Homo sapiens: one gene and its partners. The protein of the gene in region 2 interacts with the protein of the main gene of each other region in a pairwise test. Each region holds a gene or a part of one and is shown on either strand. Other genes may lie near its edges.

Region 1 (8,150 bases), on a different chromosome or scaffold from region 2:
GTTTGAGGTTATTATCAATAAAATTGTAATGAACATTTCTGTACAAGTCTTTGCATGGATATATGATTGCAATTCTCTTTGGTACAATTTGCTGAGTGATGAGATAGATGTGTAGTTTTTTGTTGTTTGTTTTTGGTTTTGTTTTGTTTTGTTTTTTGAGATGGAGTCTCACTCTGCTGCCCAGGCTGGAGTGGAGTGGCATGATCTCGGCTCACTGCCACCTCTGTCTCCCAGATACAATCGATTCTCCACCCTCAGCCTCCCGAGTAACTGGGATTACAGGTGCCCACCACCATGCCCAGCTAATTTTTGTATTTTTATCAGAGATGGGGATTCACCATATTGGCCAGGCTGGTCTCGAATTCTTGACCTGTGTTTTAAGACAGAGACTTGCTTTGTCACCCAGGCTGGAGTGCAGTAGCATCATCATAGCTCACTGCAGTCTCCAACCCCTGGGCTTGACAATCCTCTCACCTTACTTGCCCCCTGCCAGTAGCTGGGACTGCAGAGTGCACCACCACATCCAGCTAATTTTTGTTTTGTTTTTTTGAGACGGAGTCTTGCTGTTCTGTGTCGCCCAGGCTAGAGTGCAGTGGTGTGATCTCGGCTCACTGCAACCTCTCCCTCTCAGATTCGAGCGATTCTTCTGCCTCAGCCTCCCCAGTAGTGGGGACTACAGGCACCCGCCACCATGCCTGGCTAATTTTTGTATTATTAGTAGAGACGGGTTTCACCATGTTGGCCAGGCTGGTCTTGAACTCCTGACCTCAGGTGATCCACCCACCTCCGCCTCCCAAAGTGCTGGAATTATAGTTGTGAGCCGCCGCACCCGGCCTGTGTGTGTGTGTGTGTGTGTGTGTGTGTGTGTGTGTATATATATGTTTTTTTTTTTTTTTTTTTTTTTTTGTAGAAAAGGGGCTCTTGATATATTACCCAAGGTGATCTTGAACTCTTGGGCTCAAACAATCCACCCGCCTTGGTCTCCCAAAGTGTTGGAATTATAGGCTTACAGGCATAAGACACTGCACCTGGCTGATGTTTGCTTGTTTGTTTATTTATTTGTTTTGAGACAGTCTCCCTCTGTCACCCAGGCTGGAGTGCAGTGGCGTGATCTCGGCTCACTACAACCTCTGCCTCCCGGGTTCAAGCAATGCTCCTGCCTCAGCCTCCTGAGTAACTGGGATTACAGGTGCCCACCACAACGCCCGGCTAATTTTTGTATTTTTAGTAGAGACGAGGTTTCACCATGTTGGCCAGGCTGGTCTGGAACTCCTGACCTCAAGTGATCTGCATGCCTCAGCCTCCCAAACTGCTAGGATTACAGGCTTCAGCAACCACACCAGGCCAGATGTTTAGTTTCACAAGAAATGATTAGAACTTTATCCAAAGTGATTATACCATTTTGTACTCCCATCAGAAATATATATATTTTAAATTATTACTATTTTTTGAGACGGAGTCCCACTCTGTTGCCAGGCTGGAGTGCAGTGGTGCGATCTTGGCTCACTGCAACCTCCGCCTCCTGGGTTTAAGCGATTCTCCTGCCTCAGCCTCCCCAGTAGCTGGGACTGCAGGCGCGCCCCACCACGTCCAGCTAATTTTTGTATTTTTAGTAGAGACGAGGTTTCACCATGTTGGCCAGGATGGTCACAATCTCTTTTTTTTTTTTTTTGAGCCAGAGTCTCGCTCTGTCACCCAGGCTGGAGTGCAGTAGTGTGATCTCGGCTCACTGCAACCTCCGCCTCCCGGGTTCAAGCAATTCTCCTGCCTCAGCCTCCCCAGTAGCTGGGACTATAGGCACGTGCCATCATGCCTGGCTAATTTTTTTGTATTTTTAGTAGAGACGGGTTCACCATGTTAGCCAGGATGGTCTTGATCTCCTGACCTCGTGATCAGCCTGCCTCAATCTCCCAAAGTGCTGGGATTACAGGCGTGAGCCACCACGCCTGGCCAAGATTTTTATTTATTTTTAATTTAATTTTAGAGTAGGTAATGTATTCACGTGGTTCAAAAATTAAAAAAAAAAAAAAACCCAAACATGAAAATTATCTTTCTCACCTCTGTCCCCTATCTGCTCAGAGCCCACTTTTTCCCAGTCTCACCACAGATAATCATTGCTGGTAGATTTTTGGCTATTTTTTGGTATTTCTGTAAATATGACAATATTCTGTAAATGTAAGTAAATACAGATATATTTTTTCATTTCTACCTTTTTACATAACATTCTTTTTTTTTATTTTTTATTTTTTGAGACGGAGTTTCGCTCTCGTTGCCCAGGCTGGAGTGCAATGGGGCAATCTCGGCTCACTGCAACCTCCGCCTCCTGGGTTCAAGCAATTCTTCTGCCTCAGCCTCCCGAGTAGCTGGGATTACAGGCATGTACCACCACGCCTGGCTAATTTTGTATTTTTAGTAGAGACGGGGTTTTCCCATGTTGAGGCTGGTCTCGAACTCCTGACCTCAGGTGATCCACCCGCCTCGGCCTCCTAAAGTGCTGGGATTACAGGCGTGAGCCACCGTGCCCGGCTTTACATACTATTCTTACACAGAGTTCCATACCTTGGTTTTTTTTCATTGAATAGTCTACCTTGGAGATATTTTCATTTCAGTACATACAAAGTTTCCCCATTTCTTTTTCAAGTTATAGGCTATTTCACTGCATGATGAACCAGAGTTTACTCAGTCATTTCCCTAGGTGTGGACACTAGGGTTTGTTTCCAGTATTTTGCTACTATGCACAATGCTGCAATTAATAGGTGTGAACTCATTTTATTTCACACATCTATAAGTATCTCTGTAGGCAAACTCCCAGAAGTGCAGCTGTTGAATGAAACATTGTTTGTGCGTTTATTTTGACACACATCATCAGACGATCCCCTTTCCCATCCAGCAATGTCTGAGAGTGCGAGCTTCCTGGCAGCCTTACCAATAGCATTGTCAATTTTTTGGATGTTTGCCAATCACAGTGAAAACTGCTACCTCAAAGAGTTTTAACTTGCATTTTTCTTTATAGAAGTGAGATTGGATATTTTTCATATGACTAACAGCCAGACTTAGTCCTTTGCTGTGAACTCTCCTTTTTCTATTGGGTGGTAGGGCTTTTTATTGTTGACTTCTGGAAGCTTTTGGAATATTAAAGAGATTAGCTTTGTCTATTACATGTGTTGGGACTATTTCTTCCTTGTTAATCATTTATCTTTTGACTTTGCTTATGGTGCTTTTTGCCGACCAAAGCTTTTCATAGTCATGACTTCTGGATTTCAAGTAATAATGTAGAAAAGCCTTCTTTACTCCAATACTAAAAAGGAATTTCCCCATGTTTTCTTCTTGTCCTTTTATCACATTTATATTTTATTTTTATTTTTTTTTTTGAGACGGAGTCTTCCTCTGTCGCCCAGGCTGGAGTGCAGTGGCCCGATCTCGGCTCACTGCAACCTCCGCCTCCCGGGTTCAAGAGATTCTCCTGCCTCAGCCTCCAGAGCAGCTAAGGTTACAGATGTGCGCCACCACGCGCAGCTAATTTTTGTATTTTTAGTAGAGACGCGGTTTCACTATGTTGGCCAGGCTGGTCTTGAACTCCTGACCTCGTGATCTGCCCGCCTCGGCCTCCTATAAGTGCCGGGATTAAAGGCGTGAGACACCGCGCCCATCTGTTTTTATTTCATAAACGACTGAAAAAAGACCAGAGCCAGGCCTCCTCCCTTCCATCACTAATCTTTATTGCAATAACTCCCTCCTTTGTCGTCCTGTACCTAGCTCAGACCAGACGACACCCCAAACACAAACACCAAGACACGCACCTCTTTAATACGAAATAATAAACATACCTCCCCCAGAGAGACACCCTGAACTAACCAAATCATTGTAACTATACACTAAGCCTTACATAAAAATACTAACATTTGGCCGGGTGCGGTGGCTCACACTTGTAATCCCAGCACTTTGGGAGGCCAACGTGGGTGGATCACCTGAGGTCACGGGTTCGAGACTAGCCTGACCAACATGGTGAAACCCCCGTCTCTACTAACACAAAAATTAGCCAGGTGTGGTGGCGGGCGCCTGGAATCTCAATTACTCAGGAGGCTGAGGCAGGAGAATCGCTTGAACCCGGGAAGCGGAGGTTGCAGTGAGCCAAGATCGCGCCATTGTACTCCAGCCTGGGTGACAAGAGCGAAACTCCGTCTCAAAAAAAAACCAAAAAACCCCCTAACATTCTAGTACACTTCCCTGAACTCTTGTCTATAGAAATGATCCCGCACTTCTACACTTGAAACGCTGACTTGCATTCTCTAAAATCTGCACTCCTGAGCGGGCGCCCGCAGCCTCCGCACTGGCAAAGAATCTGTGAGCTGAGCTCCGCCCCGCTCCGACCCCGTAGTGGCGGTCACCCGGGGTGTGCTCGACTCCCGGGTGCGGCCTGAGGATCCGCGCCCTGGCGTCTGGGCACACACAAAGGTTTCTGCGGCGCGGGACTATCTCAAAATATAAATTAAATACTTTTTTCACAGACAGTTAATAAAAAAACTACAGCTACACCCGGCCCTTTCGCCAACTGGGACCGGCCCACTCCGCGCTCGCGCTCGCGCTCGTCCATCCGGGCGTCTCGAGGGCGCCGGCGGGAGCGAGCACGCTGCGCAGTCACGTGCCCGGCGCGCCCCCGTCGCGGCGCGCTCAGGCGGAAGTGAGGTCGGCGGCTCCGGTGGCTGCGCAGCGTCGGCGGGGAGCGCGGGCTGCGGAGAGGCGGGCCGGGCCAAGCGGAGCCGAGCGAGCGGGAGCGCGGCGTCCGGGAGGCGGCGGAGACGCGGGGCTCGGAGGGTCAGCCTCTTATCGTAGCAGGTCTCCTCGGCACGCCCCCCTTGTTTCGCCCCACGGCCAAGCCCGCCGCGGGCCGGCGTGCGCTGGTCACTGAGGCCCAGGTCGCCGCCGCGGCGCGGTGAGTGGGGGCGGGCAGCGGGCGACTGCGCGTCCAGGCCGGAAGTGCGGCGCTTTGTGCGGCCGGCTCGGGGCGGCGCCAAGGTCGGCCCGCGGCTCGGGGTCGCTGGGCGTCTGGACCGGCCTGGGCTGCGCTTTGTGCCGCGGGCAAGGCCGGGCGGGGGCCGGGGGCGGAGCTCGGCCGGACACGTACGCGTGCAGGTGCGGTCCGGGCGGCGCGGGCCTGCCGCCTAGGTGGCCGAGGTGGCTTCGCGGCGCGGGGCGTTCTCCTAAAGGTCGGGGTCACAGCCGTCAGGAATGCGAGCGTGAAACCCGGGGGCAGAGCTTTGTGACAATAGTCATTTCCAATGTGTAACTGCTCACTTTGTCTACCCACGAAGTAAAGATAATTTTTATTTTTATTTTTTTGCTTGGCGGAATCTGAGCGTTCTCCTTCCAGCTTGAAAAGGCACGATTTAAATTACAGATTTTTAAGATTTCCTTCAGAAAGGACGTTTCGTGGCCTAGCCTGGGTTAACTTTGAAAAAAGAGTGCAGTGCGCCTTTACGACGTCCACAAATAAGGGTATTTCTGTTTTATAGTGTATGTGAACATGAAGTGTGCATCTCATGGGCTGTTTGAGTTAATGTTTAATCATTAAAGTCAAACAAGAATATTTTGCAGTGTTTTCGCATGCAAGGAAGCTTTATAAATAAAAAGGTTTATATAGTTTCCACTCCTTAAACTTTCAGGTCATCCTTGTGTAATTTGAGATCACTTTTCTCAAATACTATGGATGAAAGATTCTAGATTAAATAAAACTTTTTGGTTTTGGCAAAAACAGGACACATTTTTAAGCTCTTGTAGATGAAGGAGTGGGTTATTTTTGCTTTGACAGCCAAGATTTGAGCAGTGTAAGGCTATTCTAATTTTGAAGCTAGTGTTGCAGAAATTGTGAAGATCTTGCTTCTCTTTGTCTTTACAAAGCAGGCTTACTTTGGTGGAGTTCCGTAGTTTAAAGGGAAATTATACCCAAGTTGTCTTAGACAGTTTCTTTTCCTGGATCAATTGAGCACTTTTTTTTTTTTTTTTGAGACGGAGTCTCCCTCTGTTTCCCAGACTGGAGTGCAGTGGCGCCATCTCGGCTCACTGCAAGCTCCGCCTCCCGGATTCACGTCAGTCTTTTGCCTCAGCCTCCCAAGTAGCTGGGACTGCAGGCGCCCGCCACCACGCCTGGCTAATTTTTTTGTATTTGTTTTTTTTTTTTTTTAGTAGAGACGAGGTTTCACCGTGTTAGCCAGGATGGTCCCAATCTCCTGACCTCGTGATCCGCCCGCCTCGACCTTCCAAAGTGCTGGGATTACAGACGTGAGCCACCGCGCCTGGCCGAGCACAATTTTAAAAGAACAGTACACCAGCGTAATAGAGTAATAGTTTTTTCATGCCTTGTGTCCAGTCTGTTAAGTCTGTCTGATTGTACTGTGCAGAAATACATGAATTCCTCCCAGTAAAATGCAAACCCAAACCTTGGTAATGAAGGTAAAGTTTGGGGGAGAGAACTTCTTTTCTTTTTTCTTTTTTTTTTTTGTGAGACGGAGTGTCGCTCTGTCGCCCAGGCTGGAGTGCAATGGCGTGATCTCGGCTCACTGCAACCTCCGCCTCCCGGGCTCAAGGGATTCTCCTGTCTCAGCCTCCCGAGTAGCTGGGATTACAGGCACACACCACTGCGCCCAGCTAATTTTTTGTATTTTTAGTAGAGACGGGGTTTTACCATGTTGCCCAGTCTGGTCTTGAACTCCTGACCTCAGGTGGTCCACCTACGTCGGCCTCCCAAAGTGCTGGAGACACCACCGCGCTCGGCCTATATGCTTTATTTTTTATTTATTCATTTATTTTTTTGAGACAGTTTTGTTCTGTCGCCCAGGCTGGAGTGCAGTGGAGTGATCTCGGCTCACTGCAACCTCCTCCTCCCGGGTTCAAGTGATTCTCCTGCCTCAGCCTCCGGAGTAGCTGAGATTACAGGCACATGCCACCCTGCCCAGGTAATGTTTGTGTTTTTAGTAGAGATGGGGTCTCATCTCACTATGTTGGCCAGGCTGGTCTCGAACTCTTGACCTCAAGTGATCCACCCGCGTTGGCCTCCCAGAGTGCTGGGATTACAGGCGTGAGCCACCGTATCCAGCTTCTTTTTTAAAAATATATTTTTGTCCAGGTGTGGTGGCTCACGCCTGTAATGCCTGCACTTTGGGAGGCTGAGGCTGGCATATCACGAGGTCAGGTGATCAAAACCATCCTGGATAACATGGTGAAACCCCATCTCTACTAAAAATACCAAAATATTAGCCGGGCATGGTGGCAGGCAACTGTAGTCCCAGCCACTGGGGGAGGCTGAGGCAGGAGAATGGTGTGAACCCGGGAGGTGGAGCTTGCAGTGAGCCGAGATTGTGCCACTGCCCTCCAGCCTGGGCAACAAAGCGAGACTCCATCTCAAACAAAAAATTTGTATATATTATACATATATATGTTCATTTTGTAGAGATGGGAGTCTCACTATATCGCCCAGGCTGATCTCAAACTTCTGGGCTCAAGCAGTCCTCCTGCCCCAGCCTCCCAAAGCACTGGTGTTACAGGCACTTGCCACCAAGTCTACAAGCTCTTGTTGATGTTGCCAGACATTACTGAGAATTTCCAATGTTGATTTTTCTGAGTATTGTATCTTGTATATTGGTGTTTCTGAGAGTGAATCTAAACCTCTTAAAATTAGATTTGTTGATATAAAATTTTAAAGGCCTCGTGTTATAGTATTTCATACTTAGTGCTCTGTGTGGAACTTTGTTTAGAGATGGTATGTTTCCAAACCAGGAAACAATAGTATATAGTGATAGGTCTTTCTTTCTTTTTTTTTTTTTTTTTTTTGAGACAAGAGTCTCGCTTTGTCGCCCAGGCTGGAGTGCAGTGGCACGGTCTGGGCTCATTGCAAGCTCAGCCTCCTGGGTTCACGCCATTCTCCAGCCTCAGCCTCCTGAGTAGCTGGGTACAGGCGCCTGCCACCGTGCCTGGATAATTTTTTTTTTTTTTTTTTTTGTATTTTTGGTAGAGACGGGGTTTCACTGTGGTCTCGATCTCCTGACCTCGTGATCCGCCCTCGTCGGCCTCCCGAAGTGCTGGGATTACAGGCGTGAGCCACTGCGCCGGCCTCTTTTTTTGAGATGGAGCGTCCATGTCGCCCAGGCTGGAGT
Region 2 (7,849 bases):
AAACACAAGACGGTTCTGGCTACTGTCTTAAGCCATTACCATGAGGGCTTAAGGTGGCCAAAATGAAGACTTATAATGAATTGACAGTTTGTCACATTCTGATGATGGTATATTTTGTTTTTTGTCATCTAATCTGTTAATTTGCAAATATTCACTGAATGCCTACTCTGTGACACGGCAACATCCCAGAAGTTATGAAAGGGCCATGGTATTCTTTTTTGGTCCAACTGCTTATTTTAGAAACATACTGATTTTGGAATCTAACGCTTACCCTGGATAGGCGGGGATGGCTGTTGGAGGTACCGCTCGGACTGCACCATATACTGTCCGCCCTCTGCCCCTCAAATGGGCTCCTCTGAAAGCGGCTGCCGTGGTGGCTGCAGTAGGGTAAGGGAAGCCAGGAACTAAAGGGAGACCCAAAATATGACAGAAATTTCAACTTGCATTCAATAGAAGGTGCACAGTCACAACTTGCTATGAACCAATTATAGAAAAGATGGAAAGATACGAACCACACCTTTTTGGAAAAGGTGGCATGCATTCAATAAACGTTCTACCCTGGGTCTCTCAGTGGGGAAGAAATGGAAAGAGAGACCCAACATGCAAAAGCAAAAGATTCCATGCCTCATTCATCACAAATCTTGAGTGAGCTTCTCTGTTCCTTCTCAATTTCAGCTTTACAATGCAAGCTGCTGAGAAACAGGTCAAGAAGCTCTGAGAATGACTGCCATAATAAGAGACAGACTTTTAATTACTGTGGGCAGTCTAAATCAGATTGACACAAACTCTTCAACCGGTCAGTTATTAACCTTGCTTCCCAATGTTACTATGTCCACATAATAATTATTACTCAAAAGAACATTCTTTTTATATTTTTACATGGTACCAACCTCTAAGGCACATAATAGTCTTTAGACATTTCATTTCATTAGTCAATTTCATTCTTTTATTTAAAACATTTTAATCCACAAATGTAAGGTGAGGGAAACAACTCCTACCCTGTCCTTTAAAGAGGCAGACAATTTCTAGGGGCCTCATATCCTTTAAAGAGGCAGACAATTTCTAAGAGCCTATTTTAAGTGTGCTGTCCTCTGGAAAGCATGCAGAGACATTGATTCCATGTCCACTGAATCCTGTTTAATTATACCTCTTGCTGGAGTAAAATGGCTCAGGTCAAAATGACTTAGAGAGATCAAGAGAGCTGGGAATAATCAATAATACTGGAAGTACTTCTAAGTGATCCTCTGCTGGAGAACCTGTGGCTGACTCGCAGAGGAAATGTATAATATGCTCTACACATACTTGCTTCTTTTGTTTTCTTTATCGTCAAGTACAGACTAAAATATTCTTCATATGCCCTTACCCCCTCTACCTTTTCCAACTATTTCTGCTTTGTGCAATCTTAATATTTGGTCAGGAAAATTCTAGCACAGGTTAAGCAGGACAGGGCACTGGGATAGTATTTAATATCCCTCTCAAGAAATTTCCATTTCAGTTATGTACTGTACTAGGAAAAAAAAAAACAGTACATGATAGTTCACTCACAACAGTCAAAATCCATGCCAGGCCAACATAGGCTACTTACTGATTAAAGGAATGTAAGTGTTGATACCCCCTCTTCCTGATAGGGGCACTGCTGCATCATTGCCTAGGGACACATCTGCTTGAAAGCTGGATGCTGATTGGATTTTTAAAAAATTTAAAAATGCAAGAAGATTAAAAAGGAGTCACAAATTGAAAAACAGCAGATGCTATTACAATTAAATAGCACAAGTGGAAACATTTACTTAAATACTACCTGCATATAACTCCGGACCATATACAGCTCCAACTACTGGGCTTAATTTCCAACCTGAAACACACAAAATGGAAGGTAAGCATTTAAGACTGTTTGAGGAAAGGGATGATCAGTGCATGTCAAGTTGGCTTCAGCCATCTCTGGGGCTATTTTTGCCTATTATCAACTTCTCTTTGGAATTCCAGCTTGGGGTTTATATGAGAGAGTAACAGTAGTAGAACTAGGACACAGTGAAGAGATAATGAGGGGCTGGGGCTGGGGGGCTTGGCAGGTGTCATGATGTTGGGAGGAGGAAGATGGAGAGGGAATGAGAGGAGAAAAAATAAATAGAAATAAATCCTAGAGTTTGGTAAAGTGTTCTCACAGAATTACCCTGGATGACCTATCCTTCATTTAAAAAAAGAAGGCCGACTATATGTCACTCTGAACCATGCTGTGATGCATTTTCTCAACCCTGTTTATTACTCTAGTTGTTTTAATAAAGGTATCCATGGGCTGAACTCAAATTCAACCTAGATCTTTGACTCCATGTTTGGCTATACAATGCTGGTATTCCAGGTAAACTGAAATCCACTTTTACTCGGATTTACCATTGGGATTTTACTGGGGTTCACCAACTAAAAAAGGAAAGACATGAAATAGTAAAATTCAAGGTACATTCCCAACTTCAGTGCATGTTTTCTGAGGCTTTAATGTGTAATAATCACCTTTAAGTTAATCAGACTTCTTAGCTAAAGAACACCAGAATACTGTGGAACATTAGCTTAAATATTTATAAATATTAAGAGTTTCCAAATAACATTATGTTTAATGTCAACTTTATTTCTTCTTTCCCTTTTTTATATTTATAGGAATATGGCAAGTATTTTTTAAAAAGGAATAATATACGATTGCTCACTGCGAGTGAATAAAAGTAGAATTCCACATGAAAACTTTAATCAATATTAACTGAATTTTACATATAAGCAAAAATACTCTATATTATATATTTTCTGACTCATTTGTCTTTTTATATTAAGACCCTAGCATTGTGCCACACTATTCTATAAATATACGAATGAAAAGAAAAAGGCCAGAATTGGCCTCCTCTTTTTTTTTTTTTTTTTTTTTGAGACAGAGTCTTGCTCTGTCACCCAGGCTGGAGTGCAGTGGCGCAGTTTCGGCTCACCACAACCTCGGCTCCTGGGTTCAAGTGATTCTCATGCCTCAGCCTCCCAAGTAGCTGGGACTACAGGCACGTGCCACCATGCCTGGCTAGTTTTATACTTTTAGTAGAGATGGGGTTTCACCATGTTGGCCAGGCTGGTCTTGAACTCCTAACCTCAGGTGATCCACCCGCCTCAGCCTCCCAGAGTGCTGGGGATTACAGGCTTGAGCCACTGCGTCCAGCCACAATTGGCCTTTTCAAAAGAATTATTGAAATTACCAGATTTAAATGACTGTAAGCAAGACATTATTCAAGTGAAAACCTATTCACTCTGATTCAATCCAATCTCTTATTCATCATTTTATGTGCTCATAAAATGCAATGTCTCTTCAATATTCCACATAAAATTCTGGCAAAATCTAGGTTCAAATCCTACTTGAATTGTAAGAACACAAATATTCTGCAACATCAAATTACACAAATACTGTGCAACATTTCTGCACAAATTAAGAGATTCCAACCAACCTAAATGAGAATGCTGACTGAGAATTCATTAGGAGGAACCCAACAAATTCTTCTTAGGACCTTTAACACAATAGCAGAAGGTTTCTTGCCTACTAAACCTGAATATTAATTTAGAATAATATTTTAAAAAATAACCTTTTTCTTTCCTACCAATGCCACTATTGCCTGAGCATTCCCTTTAAATCCACATAATGGGCAGGCACCGTAGCTCAAGCCTGTAATCCCAGCACTTTGGGAGGCTGAGGCGGAGGGATCACCTGAGTCTAGGAGCTCGAGACCAGCCTGGCCAACATGGCAAAACCTCGTCTCTACTAAAAATACAAAAATTAGCCGGATGTGGTGGCACACACCTGTAATCCCAGCTACTCTGGAGGCTGAGGCACGAGTATCGCTTGAACCCGGGAAGTGGAGGTTGCAGTGAGCTGAGATCGCACCACTGTACTCCAGCCTAGGTGACAGAGAGACTCTGCCTCAAAACAAAAACAAAAATCAATATAATGGATGTATATTGACATGTTGTTAGTAATACTTTGAATATATTTAGTTTTAGAAAATTTACAATGTATTTTCACAGATGCCCTTTGACCTTCACAAAACCCAAAGAGGAAGGTAAAATAGATACCACATCTGCAATCTGAGGTCAATACTATACTTTTCTGGGTCTCATTTCCTAATAATAAGCTGGGAGGGTTGAGTTTCAATAATTTCTTAAAAAATCCTGGTGCCAAAAATCTGTGGTCTCAATTTATAAATATGAAAACAGAATTAGGTTAAAAAACTGGTCCACTGTCACGGAGTAAATAAAGAGTCAAACCTAGAAGGAGAACGTCTGTTTTCTGAATTCCAGTCAGAGGCTCTTTCTGTCACAATATTTCCCTTAGATGTAAAGAAAATTTGACATTCTTTGCCTCTCCTTTCTATTTTGTTTACTTTGAGTTTTTATCAAAATTGTAGAGACTTGTTTTTGTAAGAGCAGTGAAAAGAAAATAAGAGGTAAAGTGGGAGGCAGTGGTATCATACCGATAAAAGGAGTAAGGAAAAATGCAAATTATGCTGATAAATTTGTATCATCTATGTGAAAAGCTGGGCTAAATATATTTATTGAAGACTTTATGGGATATAGTCAATACGGATACATTTCTCCTTGATTTAAGACATTATTAGCACATACAGCCATACTCTAGCAGTGGGTTCAAACTTTTTAAAAAAACAGCAGAGCCAGGCATGGTGGCTCACGCCTGTAATCCCAGCACTTTGGGAGGCCACGGTGGGCGGATCACGAGGTCAGGAGGTTGAGACCATCCTGGCTAACACGGTGAAACCCCATCTCTACTAAAAATACAAAAAATTAGCCAGGTGTGGTGGCGGGCGCCTGTAGTCCCAGCTACTCGGGAGGCTGAGGGCAGGAGAATGGCGTGAACCTGGGAAGCAGAGCTTGCAGTGAGCCTTGATTGCGCCAGTGCACTCCAGCCTGGGTGACAAAGCGAGACTCCGTCTCAAAAAAAAAAAAAAAAAAACTCCAGCAGAAACTCCCCCCTTTATTCTAGATATTAGTAAAAGCTTATGCAGAACCCTAATTGCTCAGACTAAAGTACAGCTGAGACCTCAGAATTCAATCCATTTGGTTTCCTTTTTCTCTCCCAAACTGGCTCTGCAGAACAGTCTGCAAAACCACCACTGGGCTACAGATTAAATTTATATTCCATCTCATTCAGAGACCATGAGTCTAGATTAAATTTGGTAACTGATGTAACAAATTATTCATAGAAAATTTCCTTCTCAATGAGAAAAACTTATAAACCTTACTATATAATATGTAATCATGAAACAGAAAATGATACACACACAACCATACCCATGGCTGTTATCTCTAGGGCTAAGGAGAGCAACAGGTCCAGAATTATAAAAGTGATTAAAATATCCTCCTAATTTATTCCACTTATGCTCAGATGAATGAAAGTCAGAACTAAAAGTAAGAGTCAGTGGGCATCCAGGGGTATTACGGACAAGTCTAACATATTAGAAAGAGCTACAGCAGCTGAAAAAGAAGGTGCTCAGGTGGGATCCAATTTGGGTTAATAGGCAACTAGATAGCATGTTTGCACTGTGTAAAAGATGAACATTACTTAGAACATAACACCTTAATAACTAAAAACTTAGCTCAATTGTAATGACAAAGTTATTCTGTAAAAATAAAATACTCTCCCAGGTAAAGAGACTACTTCAACACAAATCAAACTGTCTTAAGACGGAAATAAAGACATTCTTAGAAGTTTATAAAAACTTCATATATTTACACAAGAATAAACACTCTTTCGAAGATTATAATTTCTTACCATTTGCATATGGTGTGACCATCTTCTTATTGGTCATTACACGTGCTGTAGCATTATTCACCTAAAAATAACAAGGAGAAAAAAGGGCAGGGAAGAAGTGGACCACATTAGGGAACATAAAGTTGCACATCCAATAACAGAGTATTTAGTTTAAAATGTAAATTTCTGAGAGCAGTGATTTAAATAATTAACACAGCAATATAAAATATTAATATATAGTATTTTAATTAAAGTTCTTATCAAATGAGGATAACAAGAGTAAAGTGAGTTTCTTGGTTTCCAAATATCAGTACTCCAAAGAAAATACATTTGCAAGATCTTTGGACATCTTTTTAACAGAGAAATCTCTGCACTAAGGAAAACACAGAAAAAAGTAAATAGGAAACTATATTAGCAATTCACTTTGAAGTCTGTTAATAAAACAGAGGCTTGCCACATGGGTTATGAAATAGATTGATGGAAAGGTGATAAAATAAATCTGATTTCACCTGTCCTAATGTTCAGCATTTTAAATATGTCTGTCAGAGATTTTTACTGTCTGAGGTAAGTAAACAAATATAGAAACCTAAGATTCCCCTGCTGACAGCCTTCAGGACCATTCTGAATTTTCTAGACTACATGGTCTATCAATTTAAGAACAAAGCTTTTAAGAAAGCCTTTAAAGTAGGCACTTAAAAGAATTGAGAAAATAAAGTGTTTATTTATTTTGTTTTATGGTACTCTCCACCCTCATTACAGAACTGCATATTTTAAAGCATTCTCAGTGCTAGAGTAAGTAGGTGTTACAAAGATGCTGCTGCTGAAGAAAAGATGAATGGAACTAAGATGTCAGCATACTGCAGCCCAGTGACAGAACCAGTCTCAAAGCTCTTGCAAGGAGGGTAAAGCTCCACCATAGAACTTGACTTATACTGTGTTGTCAGGTCATAAAACATGCCAATTGAAAAAAGAAGCATAAAATATAAATGTCTTATTTTTGCCTCTTCAAATTTACATTGTGTTCAATTTGTATGGTAATAAATTTTTGTTATGAAAAGACCAATTTTAGGTAGAATTAGAACTAAAAAAAAAACCTCTTCCTATGTCTTTTAAGATTTGTACAGTGATAATCCCCCATATGAGGAAAGAGCTTGAAACTCCATTTACTCTAGCTTCGCCCACCAAATAATATAAACGTTTCACATTTAAAAAGAAAGAATGGGATACAACAATGATGAGACTGAGAGCATGCAGTTAAAAAACACACACACACAAATAAAAGAAAGAAAAAACAATCAATTTTGGAAAGAGGGGAGAAACTGAAAAGCAAGGTTCTCACAGACAAGGATTAGAATGGAGCAAGAGCTGAAACCAGCTGCTGGAGCAGAAAGCAACCAAGCACTTAAAAGGAAAAATGGCCAGAACCAATCAGAAACCACCAGTCAGCAAAAGAGACCAACAGCTGCGTGTAACTGAAGGGATGGGAAAGGAAGAATAGGGAAAGGGACAGGAACAAGGATCCGGAAAAAGAGAGTAAGGTAGGGAAAAAGAAAAGAGAAAGTCAGGAAGGGTGTAACGGGCAAAGAAAGAACAGTCAGAGCTACAAACGGGGGTTTGGGAAACAGGAAAAGTAGGGAAGGATGTAGGGGCAGGAAGTGCATTAATAAAACCAGCCAAACTGGAGTTCAGTAACTCTGAGTAAGATGTGCAAGGGGAAAAAAATCACCATGAAGTCAGTAATCAAACAGCTCAGACCGCTACAAAACAATATGTACATCCAAAATCCAGGCGGCATTACTCAACAGCATTGAAAATAAAAGGGGGAAAGGAAAAGGAAGAGGAACAACAAGTCAAATCACATTTTGTAGTGTTAATGTGAGATGGCAGATGGACTTTTTCTTTCTTATTTAATTGTTTTGTAATTACATTTTTAAAAGCTTCTTCTCTAGTGCTTTTGTTCACTTACCGCCAACGGGCACCATCGCCAGCATTGTGTATAGTTACCATGGAAAGAGTGAGTCAAGTGAAGGGCCCTAAATGCTAAACCATTGGAAAGGAGGGGAA
Region 3 (7,849 bases), on a different chromosome or scaffold from region 2:
CTTACAAAGTATGCGTGTGTGTGTCTATATATGTATGTATACATGCATGCATACATGTAAAGTTTAATGGTGAATCACTGAAATTGCTCCCTTTTTCAAGAACAAGGTCATGATGTTTTCACTACATCAATACTGTAGCAGAGACATGGTCAGTGCAAAAACTCCAGGAAAAAAAGAAGTGAAAGAAATAGAAGTACACTGAATCATAAATAATTGTGTAAATGAGAGTTTGGCAGGGTTACTGATAGATTATCACTATTGAAAAATCAAGAGCATTACTATACACCAGCTACAATCTATTAGGAAATGTTATTTAAAAAACAGCATTCATTAAAGCAACAAAACTATAGTCTACTAAGAATAAATTTGACAAAATGTGTCACGCTTTTTTATGGAGAAAGAAAACTTTTTTATGGATAGAAGTAAAATAAGACAAATAAATGGAGAGATGTATCATGTTCATGGATAGGAAGATTCAATATTTTAAAATACTGAAATGTCCCAAGTTATTCACACTATTTAATGCAATTCTAATAAAAAAAAGGGCTTTTCACTGAACTAAACAAACTGAATTAAAAAATTTATACACATAAAAGCAAAGACATAAGGATAGATGAGAGACTCCTGAAGATGAACAATGTACTTTAAGATTTCAAGACTCGTTATAAAGTCAAAATAATTACAACTGGGCAAGGTGAACAAATACACCAATGGAACAAAATAGCAGAAAAAAGACCCACACACATGGAAACTTAGTGTTTGGCAGAGGATTAATTTCAAAATAGCAGGAAATAGGTGGATTAGTCGATACATAAATTCAAGATTTAAGATCTAGAAGTGAAAAGTGGCAATACTATAGCATTAAAAATAAAAAATAGCATATATTCTTGTAGTAAAAAACAAAAAACTAAAAAAGAAGAAAAAATCTTGTGCCAGTTTTCAAAGGGAATACTTCCAGTTTTTGCCCATCTAGTATGATACTGACTGTGGGTTTATCATAAATAGCTCTTATTATTTTGAGATACGTTCCATCAATACCTAGTTTATTGAGAGTTTTTAGCATGAAGGGCTGTTGAATTTTGTCGAAGGCCTTTCCTGCATCTATTGAGATTAATCATGTGGTTTTTGTCGTTGGGTCTGTTTATGTGATGGATTATGTTTATTGATTCGTGATGTTGAACCAGCCTTGCATCCCAGGGATGAAGCCAACTTGATTATGGTGGATAAGCTTTTTGATGTGCTGCTGGATTCGGTTTGCCAGTATTTTATTGAGGATTTTTGCATCAATGTTCATCAAGGATATTGGTCTAAAATTCTCTTTTTTTGTTGTGTCTCTGCCAGGCTTTGGTATCAGGATGATGCTGGCCTCATAAAATGAGTTAGGGAGGATTCTCTCTTTATCTATTGATTGAAATAGCTTCAGAAGGAATGGTACCAGCTCCTCTTTGTACCTCTGGTAAAATTCGGCTGTGAATCTGTCTGGTCCTGGAATTTTTTTATTTGGTAGTCTATTAATGATTGCCTCAATTTCAGAGCCTGTTATTGGCCTATTCAGAGATTCAACTTCTTCCTGGTTTAGTCTTGGGAGGGTGTATGTGTCCAGGAATTTATCCATTTCTTCTAGATTTTCTAGTTTATTGGCGTAGAGCCCTCTCTCTTCACTCCTATTCAACACAGTGTTGAAAGTTCTGGCCAGGGCAATCAGGCAGGAGAAAGAAATAAAGGGTATTCAATTAGGAAAAGAGGAAGTCAAATTGTCCCTCTTTGCAGATGACATGATTGTATATTTAGAAAACCCCATCATCTCAGCCCAAAATCTCCTTAAGCTGATAAGCAACTTCAGCAAAGTCTCAGGATACAAAATCGATGTGCAAAAATCACAAGCATTCCTATACACAATAACAGACAAACAGAGAGCCAAACCATGGGTGAACGCCCATTCACAATTGCTTCAAAGAGAATAAAATACCTAGGAATCCAACTTACAAGGGATGTGAAGGACCTCTTCAAGGAGAACTACAAACCACTGCTCAACGAAATAAAAGAGGACACAAACAAATGGGAGAACATTCCGTGCTCATGGATAGGAAGAATCAATATTGTGAAAATGGCCATACTGCCCAAGGTAATTTATAGATTCAATGCCATCCCCATCAAGCTACCAATGACTTTCTTCACAGAATTGGAAGAAACTACTTTAAAGTTCATATGGAACCAAAAAAGAGCCCACATTGCCAAGACAATCTTAAGCAAAAAGAACAAAGCTGGAGGCATCACGCTAGCTGACTTCAAACTATACTACAAGGCTACAGTAACCAAAACAGCATAGTACTGGTACCAAAACAGAGATATAGACCAACAGAACAGAGGCCTCAGAAATAACACTACACATCTACAACCATCTGATATTTGACAAACCTGACAAAAACAAGAAATGGGGAAAGGATTCCCTATTTAATAAATGGTGCTAGGAAAACTGGCTAGCCATATGTAGAAAGCTGAAACTGGATCCCTTCCTTACACCTTATACAAAAATTAATTCAAGATAGATTAAAGACTTCAAATGTTAGACCCAAAACCATAAAAACCCTAGGAGAAAACCTAGGCAATACCATTCAGGATATAGGCATGGGCAAGGACTTCATGTCTAAAACACCAAAAGCCATGGCCACAAATCCAAAATTGACAAATGGGATCTAATTAAACTAAAGAGCTTCTGCACAGCAAAAGAAACTGCCATCAGAGTGAACAGGCAACCTACAGAATGGGAGAAAATTTTTGCAATCTACCCATCTGACAAAGGGCTAATATCCAGAATCTACTAAGAACTTAAACAAACTTACAAGAAAAAAATCAAACAACCCCATCAAAAAGTGGGTGAAGGATATTAACAGACACTTCTTAAAAGAAGACATTTATGCAGCCAAAAGACACATGAAAAAATGCTCATCATCACTGGCCATCAGAGAAATGCAAATCAAAACCACAGTGAGATACCATCTCACATCAGTTAGAATGGCGATCATTAAAAAGTCAGGAAACAACAGGTGCTGGAGGGGATATGGAGAAATAGGAGCACTTTTACACTGTTGGTGGGAGTGTAAACTAGTTCAACCATTGTGGAAGTCAGTGTGGCGATTTCTCAAGGATCTAGAACTAGAAATACCATTTGACCCAGCCATCCCATTACTGGGTATATACCCATAGGATTATAAATCATGCTGCTATAAAGAAACATGTAAACGTATGTTTACTGCGGCACTATTCACAATAGCAAAGACTTGGAACCAACCCAAATGCCCATCAATGATAGAGTGGATTAAGAAAATGTGGCACATATACACAATGGAATACTATGCAGCCATAAAAAGGATGAGTTCGTGTGCTTTGCAGGGATATGGATGAAGCTGGAAACCATCATTCTGAGCAAGCTATTGCAAGGACAGAAAACCAAACACCATATGGTCTCACTCATAGGTGGGAATTGAACAATGAGAACACTTGGACAGAGGATGGGGACCATCACACACCAGGGCCTGTTGTGGGGTGGGGGGAGGGGGGAGGGATAGCATTAGGAGATGTACCTAATGTAAATGACGAGTTAACAGGTACAGCACACCAACATGGCACATGTATACATATGTAACAAACCTGCACGTTGTGCACATGTACCCTAGAACTTAAAGTATATAAAAAAAAGAAATGCAAAAAATAAAAAATAAAAACCACTAAAGCAGTACTATATGTCATTTATGAATACATATATTTGTAGTAAAAATATATAAAATGAATAGGAAAGATATTCTGCTTACTTTTGAACAGGAAAGAGGGTAAGGAAGTGGGGGTAAGGAGAATTGACCTGAAGCTGTCTTACTTTACTCCCCATTTTAAGAACTTAAGTAAATGTGGCAAAATGTTGATGTCTATTTAATTTGGTTGATGTGTGTTATTATTTGTAATTATCTGTGGTTAAGATATTTCAGAAATATAACAAACATTAAAAAATTGATAGTAATAGATGGAAATCCTTTTTTAAATGAAATTACTTACAGGCCAAGGCGGTGGGACCGAAGTTACCTCTGGAGTATGAAAATAAGCAACACCATTATGGTAAGTATAAGGATATCCAGTTGAAGTTGTTAGATACATTGTTCCAGCTGCTGGCATTATACTAGAACCTAAAGCAAAGATTAAATAATAATAATTGAAATGTTCAATTTAACTGTTAAAAATGTAGTTTCTAAACACTTCAGAAAAATATTTATCTTAATATACCTATGTAGCTATGGTAAAAATTGAATGTCACAGATATTTTTAAAAAATTCCTTATGTCAAAGTATCTTTGAAGCCTGTATTTTTAAACTCAATACCTTAAAGCTTTTAGTTTAAGATGATTAAAAGAAAAGAAAAACAATACGAATAAGAAATACCAAAAATGTATCAATTCAGATTCCAACACCAGTATGCTACACAAAGCTGAACAATTTAGACTATCATCAGCGAAGTAATTATTTGTACAAATATAAATTATGTATAATTTAAAGTTACTTCAAGACAACATACACTGTAGTGAAGTTCCTAAGGTCTTGGCTAGACCTTTTATTTCTGAAAGTCCAAAGATGATGGAGGCAGTAAAGTTGGAGAAGATTCTACTTTCCTGAAGACATTTTGGTTCCACCCTACTAATTCTTTGGATATCCTACCAGCAAACATTCGTTCATGCTATGGCTGTCTTTTATCTCTCTTTTCTATGATCTATTCTCTATCTAGTCTCCCTTTGCTACAACTGCTGCTGTTGCAAACATGACCGCAAGTCTTCATGTGGCTAGTCTGGGGTCCCCAACTCTTTTCCCGGGCCAAGTTATATAAACCCCCACCACAAACCAAAAAACAGTAAATAATATACATAGATATATATATATTTTTTGTCATTGAGGAGACTTTAAAAGTTAAATTAGCCAAATTAGATTAGGTCTTAACCAGCAAGGTTATATAAATTAGTGAAACTGACAATTCTTCCACCTATACCAGTGCTTCTCAAAATTTCCCATAAATTAGAATCACTTAAATTGTTTTCTAAAATGCAAATTCCAGGGACTTATCTTCAGAGATTTTGAGTCAGTAAATCTGGGACAGGGCCTAAGAATTTGCATTTTGACAGCTTCCAATGAAATGACACTGTCTGCAAACCACACTTCAAATAGCATGGGCCTACCACTTTAAATAATACTATTGCTCCTCAGCTTTTATATTTTCACTGCATTTGATCTAGTATTGTTATTATTTATTTTAATGGTTCTTAATTAGATCCTTTTGAGAATTTGATGAAAATCAGGGACCTTTTCCTCAGATATATATACAGTCAAACACAATTTTACACACAATTTTGGAGGTCCATGGATTCCCCCCAAAAGATATTCCACTATTATTCAAAGATAATGATAATGGTTCATTATTCAATAATGGTTCATTATTCAAAGAAAATGAACCATGCTTTACCTGCTAAATAAATAAATTTTCAGTGCATACTATTTCAAGGCATTGAACAGGGCCCTAGTGATACAGCAAAAAATAAAAAAATTAGACATGAGATGGTCTGTATCCTCAAAGAAGTTAGGTCTGGTAGTGAAGATAGTCATTAGTTGATTACACAATTAATTAATTAAATACAATTTTGATAAATACATGAGGCATTATAGGGTACGATACTGAACATTTCAATTATTATGTATACAAAACATATATAAAATTTCTCTCTATATACATATATATGGAAAATTTGTGATGAAATGATGTTCAGCTAAGCTCTAAAGAATGAATTGGATGGCAAAGTACATTCTAGGTAAAGAAAACAGTATATTAGATTCTGAGAACAGGAGTATAGAATGTTCTGGAACTGAAAGAAGGCTACATGGCTAAAGCATGGAAAGAAAAGGGAAGAATACCTCAAAATAAGCTGAGCATAAGACAATAAGAGGTGCACTTTTGAAAGATCACTCTGGCTGCCTTGTGAATGATGGATTGGAAGGTAGAAAGATTGGATTCAGAGAGACCACTTAGGATGTTTTTCCAGGAATTAAGGTAAACAAAGTGGTTAGTTGGGACTCGGGTGTTGGTAATGGAGATGGAAAGAAATGACAGATCTAAGAAAAAACTAAGATAAGAATCCCTTATTTGTAAATGTACTTTTAACACCTATTTTTCTTCGCAGAAAAGTCAAAAGAACTTTGGAGTCAAACAGTCCTGCATTTGAAGGCTAGTGCTACCACTCACCATTAGGCTATTTAACCCCATACTTCTTAAAGTTGGATAAGGGATGGATGGTATACCAGGAGATATGAAAAAGCAGAGGCTGAACATAGTAATCTTCCTACAGAATCAGTTTTATTCAATTGTTTTTGGGAAATATTTTTATATTCAAATAAACAATATGATATTATGGAACAGAATGCAAATTATACATGATGTTTTTGCATAAATCATGAGACTTTAAAGAAAATTTGCAATTCCAGTATGCTGCAGTGGGTTAGGAACCACAACATGCCAAGATTAACTCTCCTCTACCTTTAGGAGTATTTCAGCAGAAACATTTTTAAAACAATGACTTTATCTTTTTGGGATTGAATTTTCTATTTACAAAAATAGAGATAACAATACATCATGGGATTCTATGAAGATTAAATGAAAACTCATAACATTGACCCTTGCACTAAGTAGTTTTGAAAAAACTATTTGTATATGTGAAAGCATTCAGCATAGTGCTGATTTATTTTCTATTTCAGCAACTGGTAGATCATACTATGAGCATTACTATTTAGTACATATTGCTGGTGATAATGGGCTAACGGACCGTTACTATATGTTCTAGCTTAACCTTTGCAAGTAACAACAGTAGATTGAAAATATTCAGCATTCTGCCATATTTAGTGCATTCCATTTTGTATTAACCTACTGAGGATACTTTGATTGTCTCCTAAATTAACAAATACTAAGTCAAAATTAAACTTAATATACATCAATCTCTTTTTTGTTGTAGTTGTGGCAACTGTATTAACCAAATATCTATTATTTCTAAGTCAAAAGCATAACAGTCCAAATGAATACAATCTATTAATTTGTTAACAGATTATATATAATAACCTAATGTTTTAAACATTCCCGTAGACACTAGGATGTGGCTAAGGGAAAATAAGTTAGTTATAAATTTTACATCACATTTCTCCTTCTAGCCAAAGACTGTTAGGAATTTTAATAAATATTAAAGGTAAAAAGTTAACTATAAAGATGCCTAACTTAATAAGTAGAAAGAGTGAGGAAAGATAGAATTGAAAGCATTAGAGAAATTTGAGGAAGGTAGATACATAATTTAGCCAATTCCTAAAGCTTTAGGGATTGTCCCCCTGAAAATTATGACACACCTGGCTGGGTTACAGTACACAGCATGCAGCGAGTTTCTGATATTAGTTCTATGTTTTCACTTTCAATATTTTTACTCTGATTAATTTTAAATTAGTTTCTAATTAAAATTTTTCTCATTAGTAAGTCTAAATTATTAAATTACTTCTAATTACTTTTGCTATATTAAATGATATTTTCATCACGAAAGATTTTTTTTCCTTTAATGATGTAACTACATGGAATATACTTAAGCATCTTTATGTATATAAATTTTTTCCCAGCCAAAAAAATTGAGATATATTATTTTGTGGCAAAAATATTCAGTTTTTCCACCAACTTTGCTAAAATAACTTTATTAGATGAAAGAAACATGATCTTTTAATAAAGTTCTATAAAAAGTCTTATATTTCAAAAAAGAACCATGCAAAAATATTTAAAAATACATTAGTTC
Region 4 (7,968 bases), on a different chromosome or scaffold from region 2:
CCCCCGCCGCCATCTCCGCCCACTCCCCATCCCAACACACACACAAATCCCAAGGCTCTTCCCCTACAAACACTCTAGTTTGATGTTCAAGGCCAACCAAAATCTGGCATCAAATACTCTCTGTGGAAACTCCTACCCTAACACCTCGTACTTTTCCACTTCCCAAGTTCTGTCATTGCTGTCTCCCAACACTCTTTGCTCCGCCTCGAGATCAAATCCACCTCCCCGGTGTGGTCTTACAATGGCTTCCGGGCAGGCAATGTTGGTGCTCACCGGTATTTTCACAGCATTTTTGTCTTTAGCCTTTACGTGGCAGTTATTAGTTAACTTTTTAAATGTACCTGCACATGCTATTAACTCCCAGCTCAGCCTGTAAATGCCTTAGGGTTAATGATATGCATTTACATATAACAGGTACTGGAAATATTTAAGATATTCACATTTGAAATGTTTCATTTTCAATCTTTTAAATAGTACCTGATAAGCCATCTCACAATTTAAAAGTAAAAAAAATTTTAAAAAGTAAAAAAAAAAAAAAAAAGCGCCATCTCGTAATTTAAAAGGATGCTCAAATCTATTAAGACAATAAACAATTATTTTGCGAAGATACCAAGAATGCCCCAATTCCTTTTAGGAAAATCTAAAGACTAAGATTTTTAAAAAGAACACTGGGACAAAAAGCCATAAAACCCTAAATCTTATATCCAAGGAACATTATAGTTCTTTCGAGAACTCTATGGTGATAAAGAAAGGTTTGGAATACTGCAAATTTCTATTTTAAATGTTAAGAATAGCAATAAGCAAATAGAGCCAATCAAATTTAACAGAATAGAAAATATGTTTCCACGCCTGGTTAATTACTGATGTTAGAATGTGGAACCATTTTTAGTGTCAACATATTAGATGACAATTTTTCACAGTGAAAAAACCTATTATAGGGATCTTCAACTGGAGGCTCATTCTGTATATATACTCACTACATGTTGTAATTTATTTTCAATACTGTATTAAGATAACATTTTTGTAATAATGTAATTATTACAAAGTTAGTCTTTCTACATTTTTTTTTTTGAGACGGGATCTTGCTCTGTTGCCCAGGCTGGAGTGCAATGGTGTGATCACAGCTCACTGCAACCTCTGCCTCCCTGATCCTCCCACCTCAATCTCCCAAGTAGCTGGGTCTACAGGTATGTGACACCAGACTCTGTTAATTTTTGTATTTTCTAGAGAGATAGGGTCTCACTATGTTGCCTAGACTGGTTTCAAAATCCCGGGCTCAAGTGATCCACCTGTCTTGGCCTCCCAAAATGCTGGGATTACTGGCACAAACACCGCACCCGACCCTCTGCAGCTACTTACTCCTCCTAAGCATCAGCCCTCTCATCTCTGAAATATGGCTCTTCCTGCCTACCTCAAATATTGGCTGTAAGGATGAAAATAAACAATGAAGATAAGGGTTTTGCAGAGCTTCTGGTCCATAACAAGTACTTAATACTTCTTTTGGACATATATTTAATAAGTGCCTACGTGTACCATATGCTGATCTAGGTGTTGGAAATTCCTAATAGAAGAAACTCCTTTTTCTCATGGAGCTTACAATGTTGATGCCAGTGGCAAACGAGTTGACCCATTGTTACGTGGAAACAAATGGTATGAAAAGAACCTGGGGTAAGCAGATGGAAGAAGGGAGGAAGTGTTTGCGTGCACAAAGGCGCCATTTTACATAGGGTGTTAAGGGACACCTTCTAAAGATAAATAGGGGCAGGGGTCGCCGATGTATGGGGAAAAGCTTTCCGAGGAGAGCAAACACCAAGGGCAGAGTCCTGGGGAGGGTAAGCATGCTTGGAATATTTAAGGATCCAGACGGATTCCACGGGGGTGCAGCCAAGTGGGCTGTGGGAGGAGAAGGACATAAGGTCAGTGATGCACCAGGGGCACACCTGTCGTCTTGCAGGACTTGGTAAGCTCTTCGGATTTTTTCTTTCTTTCCTTTTTTTTTTTTTTTTTTTTGAGATAAGAAACCATTGAGGGACTGTCAGGAAATGAGGTGATCTACATAGATTTGAAAAGGTAACCTGCCAGGCACGTGGCTCACGCCTGTAATCCCAGCACTTTGGGAGGTTGAGGGGGGCGGATCACCTGAGGTCGGGAGTTCGAGACCAGCCTGACCAACATGGAGAAACCCCCGTCTCTACTAAAAATACAAAATTAGCTAGGCGTGGTGGCGCATGCCTGTAATCCCAGCTGCTCGGGAGGCTGGGGCAGGAGAATCACTTGAACCGGGGAGGCAGAGGTTGCAGTGAGCCGAGATCGCGCCATTGCACTCCAGCCTGGGTGACAAGAGCGAAATTCTGTTTCAAAAAAAAGAAAATTAACACACAGTAGCTATTATCAAATGCTGTAACCGTAAGTGATTTAATACATAGGAAATGAAAATTGCCTATCATTGTTCTTTAATCTGGTTTAAGTGGTTGAGCCTTATGACACTGCCATTTCTATGGGTCAAAAATGGTGGAATATTGTCATAAAATTCAACCTGATTTAAAGGATAGGGCAAGGAAAAAAAGCAAAAAAAAAAAAAAAAGCTTTAGAATAAAATATAATTGGATTATAATCCCAGACACAGGACTCACTAGCTATATTCTTGGGCAAGTTACTTAACTTCATCTTTCTTGGGTTTCCCCTTATTTGTAAAATGGGGATAACAGTCTAACCTAAGCCCAAGTTGTACTGATGATTAAACGAGATATGCATGTAGGGCATTCAGCATAGTGCCTAGGAGCTTAATAAATAAGCAGGCCATTAAGAAGGGGATTGCATCTTTTACACTAGCAGCATCAAAACCTTGATTTTGATTTTTCTAGGTACTGAAACAGCCTTCATTACTTAGAGACCATAGCTTTTTTGCAAGTTACTATTCCCTGCATTTAGAAAGTTCATCTTTAAACAGGCAATTCAGTAAGTAAATATTCTATGGCTCTAAAACAGATACGGCTGTTGGAGACTTTAAAACATCTGACAGTTACATTTTTAATGTTGTCTACCAAGGCTATTACATTTCCTCTGTCAAAGTAACTTAATTTTAAAAACGAACTCTGTGCTTGTTAAACGAAAAGGCCAGAAGGCTACTGGCTACTCAGCGTTCATTTGAAATTCTTATAGTGCCTTCAGTACAATTCAAACTTAGAGGTGATTCTCACAATTCATGTGAAGCAACATTTTACAAAAAAAATCACCTACGTTCACTGTTAAGTCAGAAGACAGAATGATTAACAAAATCTCAGCCGCGAATTACTCTCACGATGGCCAACTGGATATTAAATAACTCTGCATTATTTTAATGGAATGTTATAAAGGATTTGCAACAAAATGCAGACGTAGATTTAGGGACTGCCGACTTCTATAGATCAAGGACTTCATTGGTGCAGCTGAGGAAATTCTTCCAAACAAGTCTAAATGTTGGAAATCCACCAAACTGCAGAGAAAGACCTCTTGCCTCCGTATTCTTTCTTCATCTGTAAAAATGTTGACTTCTGCTTTTCAGACTACGCGCACAGCCTCTTTATTTCCTACTGCGGCTTCATTCCCTCACGGAACACTGACGCCATCGCGAAGGAAGCATTTCGAGCACGACTGACGCTCCCCTTATTATTTGCTAAGCCGCTGCGCTCGGGTCTGGCTACGATTTGCTTTCAGAATAACGGGAAGGTGCAACAAGATCGCTTCCCTAGAGGCGCGTCGCCCGCGTGGCCCGGACCCCCCACGCCCGCCCGCCGCCCCGTGGGTGCGCACGCGTGTCCGCGCAGGCTTCCCGCCTGGCGAGTGCAAGGCTCCTCTCCGCCGTGCTGCTTTCCAGCCTCTCAGCAAATCACGAACACCGAAAGAAGCCACGGCGGCGACGGGAGGGGCGTCGCGCGTGCTTCCCTCGGCGACAAAGCGGGAGCCGGGCGCGCCGGCCGAGGGCGCCCGGCGCAGAGTCCCGCAGAGGCGGACGCCGCGGCACGCGCCTCGAAAAGCCTCAAACTCTTATCCTCGGCTCTCCCGCCCCACCTCCGCCCCGCAGCCAAGACCCGCGCCGTGGCGGGCCCGACGGCCAAGGAAAGCCCACCAGCCCTCCGCACCGTGGGCGACGGGCCAAGACCCGGCCCTAAACGGCCAGACCCAGCCCCTAGTCGGCTGCCGCCCCCGCCCCACGCAGGCGCGCTCCGGGGCCCTCCCCTCCCCCACCGCGCGCTCGCGGGGCCCGACGGGGGCGGAGCGACCCTCGGAAGGGGCGTGGCGACCGGGCTCGACGCGCGCACGCGCTCTGGAGCCCCACGGCTACGTGTCGGGCCACGTGATGCCCACCCCGAAAGTCCCCCGTGAAGCAACAGGACGTTAAAAAAAAATTTCTCTTCTGCGGGGTGGATAAGAGGTTCTGAAAAAACTATAGTAACGGGAGGCGAGGCGGAGGCAGCGCTGGCGCGTCCCGCTGGAATTCCTCTCGCCTGCCGCGCCAGCCCCGACCGCGCCCGCAGCCCCACCCGCCCCGTGCCGTGGAAAGCCCCGCGCCCCCCCCGCGGCCGTCGGCCCCGCAGCCCACACCCACCCGCCCCGGGCGCCCCGCACGGCGGCGACCCAGTCCTTGCGCCCAGGCCCGCCGAGCGCCGCAGTCCGTCACACTCCCGTTGCCCCCGTCGCCCGCCCCGCCGGGGAGGCAGGGAGGAGGGGGCGCGGCGCCGGCGGCTGCCCCGGTCGCGGGGCGGCGGGCAGCAGGCAGCGGGAGCGCGCCGGCCGGGACCCGCTAACGGCCGCCCTGCGCGGCCCCGCCCGCCGCCCGCCCCCGGCCCTCCCCGCGCCGCTGCCCCTCCCCCCGCCGCCGCCGCTGCTGCCGCCGCCGCTGGCAGCGCCGCCTGAACTGAGGCGAACTCCGCCGCCAAGTGAGTGAGGAGGAGGAGGAGGAGAAGGAGGAGGAGGAAGAGGAGGAGCGCAGTCGGAGCGCGGCGGCAGCGGCAGAGGCGCCGCGGCGGGGACCAGCCCAGAGAGACCCCCCGAGCCCGCGGCACAGGCGGCGGCGGCGCTGAGCGGGCTCGACCAGCCGAGCGAGCGGCGGCCCCGGCTCCTCCTCGTCCGGCGCCAGCAGCCCGCGCCCCGCGCCCGCACTCGGCCAGCCGAGACCCGCCTCCCGCCCGCCCGCCGGCCTCGTGAGGGACGCGCCGAGCCGGGCGGCCGAGAGCGGCGGCGGCTGGGAGCGCGTCGGGCCCGGGCGGAAAGTGCCTGCGGGGGGCGGGCGAGCGCGCGGTGCCGGCCGCCCCGGGGCTCGGCGCGGGAGCCAGAGCGGGAGCCGGCGCGGAGCGGGACGCCGGGTCCCGAGCGGCCCGCGGCCGGGGCTCGCCCCCGCCCCTCCCTCCTCTCCGGCGGCGGCGGCGGCGGCGGCGGGCGGAGTGAGCTGCGGAGCCTGGAATATGGTCGGGGAAATGGAAACGAAGGAGAAGCCGAAGCCCACCCCAGATTACCTGATGCAGCTGATGAACGACAAGAAGCTCATGAGCAGCCTGCCCAACTTCTGCGGGATCTTCAACCACCTCGAGCGGCTGCTGGACGAAGGTGAGCGTCTCCAGGGCCCCGGCCCCGGCCCGACCCCCGCCGGGGCGGCCCCTTTCCCCGCTTGGGATGGTGGGGAGGGCGGGAAGGTCACGGCCGGGCGGGACCGAGCGCCGGGGGGACTGGGAGGCCAGGAGGGCGCACAAAGGAGGTGCCGGGCCGGGCTTGCGGCGGGCGGGCGGGCCGGGGTGGACCCGCCGGTGCCGGACGCCCCCTGCCCGGCCGGGACCCCGCGCCGCTGGCGTCCAAGTTGGCGCGTTGCGGAGGGCTGCGGGGTGAGCCCTGCGGCCCCTCTAGCTTCGGCGGTCACATTTCCGAGAGGTCGGCGGGGGCTGCGCGGACTCGGTGGTCCTCGCCGAGCCCTCCCGAGAGCAGGCCCACGCCGCGCCGCCGGCCTGGAGGACGCGTGTGCCCGGCGCGGGCCCCGCTCCTCCGCTCGGCCTCCCGAGCCTGCTCTGCGCGGACCCCCACCGCCCCGCGTTCGGGAGCTCTCCCCTCCCGTGAGGACTAAAGCGGGGTTTCGTGGTTGGGGAGTTGGTGCAGCTGTTCAATACTAAGTGGAAGTCAGTGTGGGGCTCGTTAGTTTAAAGAAATTCCGTAGGAGACCGAAATTATGCTGGCGTAGCCGACAAGGAGGACTAAGTGACGGCGAAAAGCACTTTTTTCCCTTTTGTTTGGGGAAGCGAGAACTGTTAGGGAGTTGAACTTCACTTTTCGGGGGTGGGGGGGGGGGGGGTGGAGTGCGAAATAACGCGATGACAGATCGGAGCGCAGCCTGAGTTAGAAGAACTTGGGCGGAGGGTTTGCTCCCGGGGACGCAGCCGCCTGAGTTTGTAGGACAGGGTTTCGAGACGTTTGGAAAGGGCGAAATAAAATTGAGCCAAAGTTTCCAAAAAGCTGTATGGAGCGCTGTGGGGAGTGAAGAATGACAAGAAGATTAATGTTGACCAACTTTGGAATTTCCTTAAGAAGTTCTCATAGCAGTACCTGAAGTATTAATTTCTAGTAGCTGTGGGTTTCTGTGGACGCCTAGAGAAAAAAAAGACCACAAAAAAAGTCTGTTTCGAAAATCGACTGGCCAGGAGTTTGTTTGTTTTTTTTTCCTGCTTAGAGGCACCACCGGAGGACTGTGTAAAGGAAACTGAAAACTACAGGTTGAAGAGATGAACAATGGAGTTTAGATTTTTCGCAAGAATTTCGAGATTTTAAAAATAGAGTCGGGGAACAGGAGTTTGAAGCTTGGGGAGTTGGAATGTCACTAGAGAACAAAAGGCCGGAAATGTTTCCATGATAAAAAATGGTTAAAGAAAAATCCCAGGAGTTCTGTTGTCTTGAAAGTCATAGAAACAACTTAAAAGTAGAAAATGGTTAGGTGTTACGGCTTTCTCGTCGTTTTGCTTCCGTATGTTAAACATACAGCACTCACCAACGTTGAAATGGGCATTTTCCGCTGTTGGAACAGCAAATCTGTTAATTTCAAGTTGCTCCAGAGAAAACCTGAGCTGTCCCTTTAAGGGGTTCTGCTTTTCCTATTTGTGTTGGCATTTGAAAGATTGTGGAGGCAGAAAACTTTCTGGAATGTCAAAAAAAAAAAAAAAATGCTGGAACTCTTAAATTGAGTATTTCCAAATGTGAGCGCTAAGGGGCGCCAGTTATTTTTTAACCATGGAAATGGTTGGAACAAAATGTGTAACATACTCAATCTGACTGACCTATATTAAATTTAGTTGAAACTTAAGTTATAGATTATTTGATTTGTCATAATGTGTTTATATAGTGTTTTCGAACATTGAAAATACTTTCCTTAAAATTATTGGCACAACTTTATGACGTTTCAAAATAACACTCTTACTGTCTTCTCCTTGGCATATTTTGGTTAAGTTAAAGTTTTAGTAGTATTAGTAACAATTTCTGGTGAAAGTTTGTTTTCTTGAGTGCAGTTGTTTAGAAGGAATCCTTTATCGACGATAAAATGAAAATAGGCCTTGGCAATATTTAGGGTTAATTAAAATTAAATTGCATTCCTGAAATGTCGAATTCAAAGACTATAGGAGATTCCAAAAAAAAGTTTGAAAATACTTTCACCTTATGTATACTATTTAAAAAGCTGCATACTTTTGCGTTCTTTAGTTTTAAAAGGCTTCTTGTGCTTTTATGTTGATCTAAAATCTCTAAATTTAGAGCTGATTCCTTGTTATCAAGTTTCCAACCTTAGGCTTTAATAATTTTTAATCTTTCAAATCCAGAAATTTCAATTATGTCATTGTCTCTGACAAAGGCTTATTTCTCTCTGGTTGGAAATAGTACTCGTTTGCGTTTTAAATGTAAGAGACCACTATGATATCTCCTAGATAATGTTTGTTTCCCCTTCCCCTTTTAATGTGG

Evidence for each region.
Region 1: the proteins of RBFOX2 (region 2) and FAM168B interact in binary tests that used the Homo sapiens proteins (3 or more experiments, as listed by UniProt).
Region 3: the proteins of RBFOX2 (region 2) and BOLL interact in binary tests that used the Homo sapiens proteins (3 or more experiments, as listed by UniProt).
Region 4: the proteins of RBFOX2 (region 2) and QKI interact in binary tests that used the Homo sapiens proteins (3 or more experiments, as listed by UniProt).

Annotation. Positions count from the first base shown.
Region 1 is NC_000002.12:131,089,997-131,098,146, reverse strand, and holds the start of FAM168B (myelin-associated neurite-outgrowth inhibitor), read left to right. Parts: upstream 1-4,686; 5' UTR 4,687-4,933; intron 4,934-4,984; exon of another isoform or gene 4,985-5,496; intron 5,497-6,183; exon of another isoform or gene 6,184-6,338; intron 6,339-8,150. UniProt on the Homo sapiens protein: Inhibitor of neuronal axonal outgrowth. Acts as a negative regulator of CDC42 and STAT3 and a positive regulator of STMN2. Positive regulator of CDC27.
Region 2 is NC_000022.11:35,759,617-35,767,465, forward strand, and holds part of RBFOX2 (RNA binding protein fox-1 homolog 2), read right to left. Parts: intron 5,868-7,849; coding exon 5,807-5,867; intron 1,853-5,806; coding exon 1,799-1,852; intron 1,679-1,798; coding exon 1,586-1,678; intron 417-1,585; coding exon of another isoform or gene 405-416; coding exon 272-404; intron 1-271. UniProt on the Homo sapiens protein: RNA-binding protein that regulates alternative splicing events by binding to 5'-UGCAUGU-3' elements. Prevents binding of U2AF2 to the 3'-splice site.
Region 3 is NC_000002.12:197,767,805-197,775,653, forward strand, and holds part of BOLL (protein boule-like), read right to left. Parts: intron 4,179-7,849; coding exon 4,051-4,178; intron 1-4,050. UniProt on the Homo sapiens protein: Probable RNA-binding protein, which may be required during spermatogenesis. May act by binding to the 3'-UTR of mRNAs and regulating their translation.
Region 4 is NC_000006.12:163,409,750-163,417,717, forward strand, and holds the start of QKI (KH domain-containing RNA-binding protein QKI), read left to right. Parts: upstream 1-4,968; 5' UTR 4,969-5,215; coding exon of another isoform or gene 5,216-5,427; 5' UTR 5,428-5,444; coding exon 5,445-5,586; intron 5,587-7,968. Other genes in the region: basic proline-rich protein-like, read left to right, coding at 3,457-4,336, 4,500-4,919, 5,216-5,427. UniProt on the Homo sapiens protein: RNA reader protein, which recognizes and binds specific RNAs, thereby regulating RNA metabolic processes, such as pre-mRNA splicing, circular RNA (circRNA) formation, mRNA export, mRNA stability and/or translation.